Linked DNA regions of Homo sapiens: region 2 is linked to region 1. Evidence: fine-mapped QTL for protein levels in blood plasma. Region 1 holds a variant in brackets. A gene starts in the other region. All regions are shown on their forward strands. Region 1 has its middle 2.2 kb from the start of OR11L1. Region 2 holds the start of DYNC1H1 (dynein cytoplasmic 1 heavy chain 1).

What was found. PIP is the posterior inclusion probability: the model's chance that the variant is causal. Protein levels are from antibody-based Olink assays in UK Biobank. Linkage for the fine-mapping came from a reference panel and not from the study's own genotypes, which makes the PIPs less certain.
Region 2: it holds the start of DYNC1H1, and the variant in region 1 is fine-mapped to the plasma level of the DYNC1H1 protein (UK Biobank, PIP 0.92).

Annotation. Positions count from the first base shown.
Region 1 is chr1:247,842,610-247,845,516 of GRCh38, forward strand. No RefSeq gene overlaps it. Among named protein-coding and RNA genes, the nearest start is that of OR11L1, 2.2 kb to the left of the region's middle. The variant C/T (reference allele first, on the strand shown) is at 1,126.
Region 2 is chr14:101,963,099-101,965,945 of GRCh38, forward strand. It overlaps DYNC1H1 (dynein cytoplasmic 1 heavy chain 1), which reads left to right and starts at 1,475. Exons shown (of 78, transcript NM_001376.5): 1 at 1,475-1,849. The coding sequence starts at 1,594. RefSeq lists enhancers at 1,028-1,167, 1,212-1,822, 1,823-2,432 and silencers at 1,308-1,467, 1,958-2,167.

The DNA of each region.
Region 1 (2,907 bases):
CTTGAATCCGGGAGGCGGAGATTGCAGTGAGCCAAGATCGCACCACTGCATTCCAGCCTGGGTGACAGGGCGAGACTCCGTCTCAAAAAAAAAAAAAAAATCATGCACATGTGGAAGCAAATGCCTTTCCCTTCTCATCTGTGGGCTTTGTCTGAAAAAGAAGCCAGACACAGCACATCTCCTATGCCATCTTGGGAAAGTGTATATATTCCACCCTCAAACAATATTTATTAGTCCCTGCTGTGTGTGTGTGTTTGTGTGTGTGTGTTTGTGTGTGTGTGTGTGTGTGTGAAGGCCTGTGCTGAACTAATCTGCCTCACTCCACTGGTGTCCTTTCTTGCCTCATCCGATACCATACTCATGCTCAGCCACTATAATTACACCCTCGTGTACACCTTTTATTCTTTCATTTAATTCATTGTCTATAGTTCTGGATAAAGTAAACATCCACCTGCCATACAGGAGCTTCTGTGAAGTTGAGGGAGTGAGACAAGCAAGAATAGAACCTCTTTAAAATGTACAACCAACAAACTCAGTGTGCCCTTACTGCTGGAGAGCAATCATTCTGTATTTCCCTTATAAACCAAAAATAAAATTCTAAACCCCACAACTGACTGAGCGGACTCCTCCTTTCAGCCAAGGGGATTTCAAAGAAACCTAAAAATTCTGGTTCAGATCATGATGGGAAGAGGGGGTTGGACAAACCTCATTACACTCTCCTTTCTTCAGAATTCAGGCATAACTGAGCAGCAATAACATCAAAAAAGAGATTTTAAGGCTGACGAAACAGACTCTGTAGAAATAAGCTACCAAATTCTAACCTGACTCTAGTATAGCATCATGACAGACAGCCGACCCTGAAGGAAATGGAAATATTTTACCACAAAATATATTTATTTGTCATATTTAAAATGGCCCTGCAAAGCTGTCTCTTGTGGGGGAAATCTACATTCTGCGGAGAATCCCTTTCCCTCTCCAGGCCTTTGTCTGATCCTCAAGAGATTAGCTGAAAGTCTAGCACCTTTTAAAGGTCTCAATAGAACATTTTTCCCATCTGCTGCTTCTCAGGCTGGCAACATATGAGACTTCATCTACATCATAAGAACCTTGGTTTCCCCAACCCCC[C/T]TATCTTAACCCAGATTCTCCTTTCTATTGATTCCAGGTCTTCAGACAATAACTTAATTCTTTCAACCAGTTGCCAATCAAAAAGTCTTTGCATCCACGTATGACTGTAACCTTCCCCCATTCTTGGAGCTGTCCTGCCTTTCCAGACCAAACCAACGCATAGCTCACACGTACTGATTGATGTCTTATGTCTCCCTAAAATGGATAAAGTCAAGCTGTAACACAACCACCTTAAGCACATATTCTCAGGACCTCCTGGGACTGTCACAGATCATGGTCTTTAAATTTGGCTCAGAATAAACCTCTTCAAATATTTGTTACAGACTTTGGTTTTTATCAATACCCGTATCTATTCACTCTTCCAATCTCCTAAGTGACTATTTCACTTATGTTGCTCTCTTTTCGAACGTCTAGCACATCCCTGTTGCTCTGTACCCTCAGTAAGAGACTTATTTCACTGGAAGATCCTGAAATCCTTCAGTGGAAGTATCCACAAGCTCAGGCCACTAAATTCTGCCATCGACTACCTTTTGTTCCTGTGCACCTACTCCCTACACTTCCTCTGAGTAAACTATCTGTGTCCAAGTCTAAGGCAAATCCTTCCACCTGGGCATTAGGCGCCATAACCTCCTACACACTGGAAAGGTATTGCAGGTGACAGAGGCAAAACTATTCCTATCCAAAAGACTCAGGAGTGTTGAGCTGAAGAAGACGAACACACAGGGGACCTGCCCCTTCCTCTGCTTTCCTGAAGGCAGGACCAAGATTTACAAAGACAAAGGTCTTCCTGCCTCCCCTCTGCCTCTTCCCACCTGAAGACAGTCTCCTTTATAATGCTTGCTTCTCAGCTCAGACAGCAACGCCAGGGATCTCGGAACAGACTACTCTTCCTGTAAATTTTCCTTCCCAAATGTCTTGCTTTTGGGAAGCCTGAAGATGCCGTTTTTTTTGTTTTGTCACCGTAGAGGATGTATGGCTCCTTGCTAAGATACTATTTCAGCAAGGCCTCAAAGCCACTGCTTCCAAACCGTCGCAACAATCTAGGTGAGCCGTTTTCCTGAGAGAGCTGCTTTCTTTCTTGTGGATGGGCATGACATGCATAAATAAACATGCTTGTTTTTCTCTTGGTGATCTGCGTTTTGCTCATGAAAATCTGTCCTAGCAGTGAATTTAATGAAAGTCGAGAAGAGAAATTCTTTTTTTCTCTCCTTCACTGGGTATTCTCAGCTTCATGCCTGAATCACCCATGGTGCCCTTTCTGCCAAAGCATTTCCTCAGCATGTCAATGGGCTGGATTTCTCTCCCCCACTTTAAAAAGACAAAACAGAGAAGAATGTCTAGAGGCTTTGCTGTTCTCTGAATACTACCTGCACTTTTCTGCTCCCTTTTCCCGATGCTTTCCCTTCTGGAGGGCACTGTCCCTCCCTGCTGCTCCTCGTCCTCTGCCTTCTTGCTCGCTGGAATGCACTATGATCAGGATGTTTTTCTTGCCACTGCCCCAGACGGCGCAGCTGTGCTGGCATTGCCCTCCAACCACCCATCGCATTCCCGATCCTCTTCATCTGTGGCATCATCGCACCATTGATCCCTCCCTCTTCCTGGATCCACTGGTCACTTAATATCCACAACTACATACTCTCTTAGATCAGCGACAGCCCTGGTTTTTCACACTTGTACAGGGCTTCGTGTCTTTCAATCTACCTTCATTTCCTTCACAGTTTCAGGCAGTCTCTTGACTTGAATGCTGTCACTTTGCTCTCAGCCCTCAAATTTATGTCTCAA
Region 2 (2,847 bases), not on the chromosome of region 1:
TTCCACATGCTCCTTAAAGACAAGAATCATCTGATTAGTCTCCGTGTTCCAGCAACCCCCTGGGACCCAGCAACCGGTAATTAGGCAAGGAATAAGCTTATTGTATGTTTCACAGTTTTTCAAAGATGATTTGGGAGAATCAAATCATACCATCATCATTCCACCAATCAGGACTCGGCACTCTGACAGTGCACTTTGATGTTTAAAAAAAACAAAAAAACCAAAAAAAAAAAAAACGCCATTGGCTTCCCTCTCTCCACCCAACTTAAGAAAGAAGTTATGAATGTGAACTTTCAAAGGCCAATTACTACCCCTTAGAAGAACCTACCATCTCTAAACTACAAAGATGGGCAGCCTGGATTCTATTATTTTTATTATTTTACAAAATTCTTAATTTTTAAATACACATAGATATAGGGTCTCGCTAGGTTGACCAGGCTGGTCTTGGAACTTCTGGCCTCAAGCAATCCTCCCATCTCAGCCTCTCAAAATGCTAGGATTACAGGTGTGAGCCACCGCACCCAGCTGGGCAGCCTGGATTCTGGCTCTTATGTAGTCATGGTGTAGGGGAGGAGGTCGTGGTGGGTCCGAACTAGGGGGAAACTTGGTGGGCAGGCAACCCAGCCCCTGCCTTGTACGGACCCAGATACTGAGGCCCACAGAATGACAGTGCCAGCTCTAGGGGGCTGGAGGAGAGCCATTGCTGGAGGTAGCTGTTCTCAGTAGGTCTCCCTCTTGGTCCTCACAGCGTCCTCGGGGACAATGATTTTTGTCATTAGGAACCAGATCCCATCACAGCTTGGCTTTACGTACAGTGAAGGTGTCATTCCTGGCTTAACCTTACACTGCCCCGAAGGCCCCCTCCCCAGCTGTCCGTTTCCAGCCTGGCAATGGGACTCTCTGAGCACGCCCCTCATCTCCTCCCCCTCTGAAAAGTATCCTCAATCTCCCGGTCTATATCTAATAACACATCTGTCGTGCCTATATTTTGGTACCTGATACGTAGTCATTCATTCATTCAATGAGAGAACATTTAATGAGAGGTTAAGGGGCTTAGAACAACGCCGGGCACAGGCTAAGCGCTCACTAAACGTTAGCTCTCGCCAATAACATCACTGATTCACTATAAAGTTTCTCTGGCTGTGTGCTATTCGCTGCGTCCACAGCAGTGAAGAAGACAGACGCAGCCCCTGACCAACCTCGCCAAGCCCGGGCGCCGAGCCAGGACGTTGAGCCAAGTCCCCATCTCCTAGGACTCGCAGTGCGGAGGCTGCGGGCCCCGACCAGCGCCGAGACTACAAGTCCCAGAAGGGCGCGCGGCGACATCGCCGGGCCCGCCCCCCGCGCACGCGCGGCGCCGTGACGCTAAGGCCGCGAGCGAGCGCGGGTGGCTGCGGCGGCTGCGGCCGGCGGGGCGGGGCGGGGCCACCTGGCAGTGGCTGCCTTTAGGGCGGAGCCGGCTCCCGCTCTCCTCAGTCTGCGGTGGGCTAGCGGACGGTCCGGCTTCCGGCGGCCGTTTCTGTCTCTTGCTGGCTGTCTCGCTGAGTCGCGGCCGCCTTCTCATCGCTCCTGGAAGGTCCCGAGCGCGACACCATGTCGGAGCCCGGGGGCGGCGGCGGCGAGGACGGCTCGGCCGGATTGGAAGTGTCGGCCGTGCAGAATGTGGCGGACGTGTCGGTGCTGCAGAAGCACCTGCGCAAGCTGGTGCCGCTGCTGCTGGAGGACGGCGGCGAGGCGCCGGCCGCGCTGGAGGCGGCGCTGGAGGAGAAGAGCGCCCTGGAGCAGATGCGCAAGTTCCTTTCGGACCCGCAGGTCCACACGGTGCTGGTGGAGCGCTCCACGCTCAAAGGTGCGGGGCCGCGGAGGGCAGGGTCGCCAGAGCCAGGCCTCGCGGAATGCAGGGCCTGCCAGGTCCTCCGGGGTCGCAGATGTCCCCGGGATGGGAGGAGCCCGGCAGCTGCAGATGACCCCTGGATGGGCAGAGCCCGGCGGCCGCAGACGTCCCGCCGGCCGGGTCCCCAGGGCCGCAGACGCCCCGCAGAGGCCGGCGCGGCGCCCGGGGCTCGCCCTCGCCACACCCACTGCCCGGCCCGGAGCCCCCAGGGCGCCCCGCTCCTGGTCGCGGGGAGGGGAAAGGGGTCCCCGTCTGCCGTCACCCAAAACAATGGGGTCGCTTTGTCTGCTCGGGCCTCTCAAGATGGCCGAGTTGGGTGGAGACAGCGTCTCCCTGGGCTGAGAGCGGGCGAGGCCGCATCCCTGCCTCCAGTGTCACATGAGCTTTTCGGTTTCGATTTGTGTCCAAGCCAAGTGGCCTTCGGGAGGGATGTGTCGGGGGCAGACCCGCGGAGCTGGGGGCAGCCGGGGTTCTGGTTCGGGAGGAGGTCGGGCGGGTGTCCCAGCCCTGCCTTGTGGGGACCCAGAGGCCGAGGCCCACAGAGCGACGGTGCCAGCCCCGGGCCTGCGAGCATCACTGTTGTAGGTGGATGCTCTCACAGCATCCTTGCTGAACGGGTGTATCCTGATTTTACACCTGAGGAAACTGAGGCTCAGGTTAAGTGATTTCACCCAAGGTCACCAGCTAATCTTAGTCCTGAGACTAGACTCAGTGTCTCAGCTCCCCATCCACTGCTTGTTTTCACTGATCATACCTCATATTTGTTTAATGCTTCGATGATGTTAATGATAACCCTGTAATATTTGAGTCTAATTTTACAGATTAAAAAAAAAAAAAAAGATTCAGGTTAGGCACCTAGTAGGGGGAAGAGGCTAGAGTTAGCGTGTTCCAGCTGTCTCCTCAAATAATGATCGCCCACCAGCAAGGTTACATTCATCTAAGTCTGGGGCTTG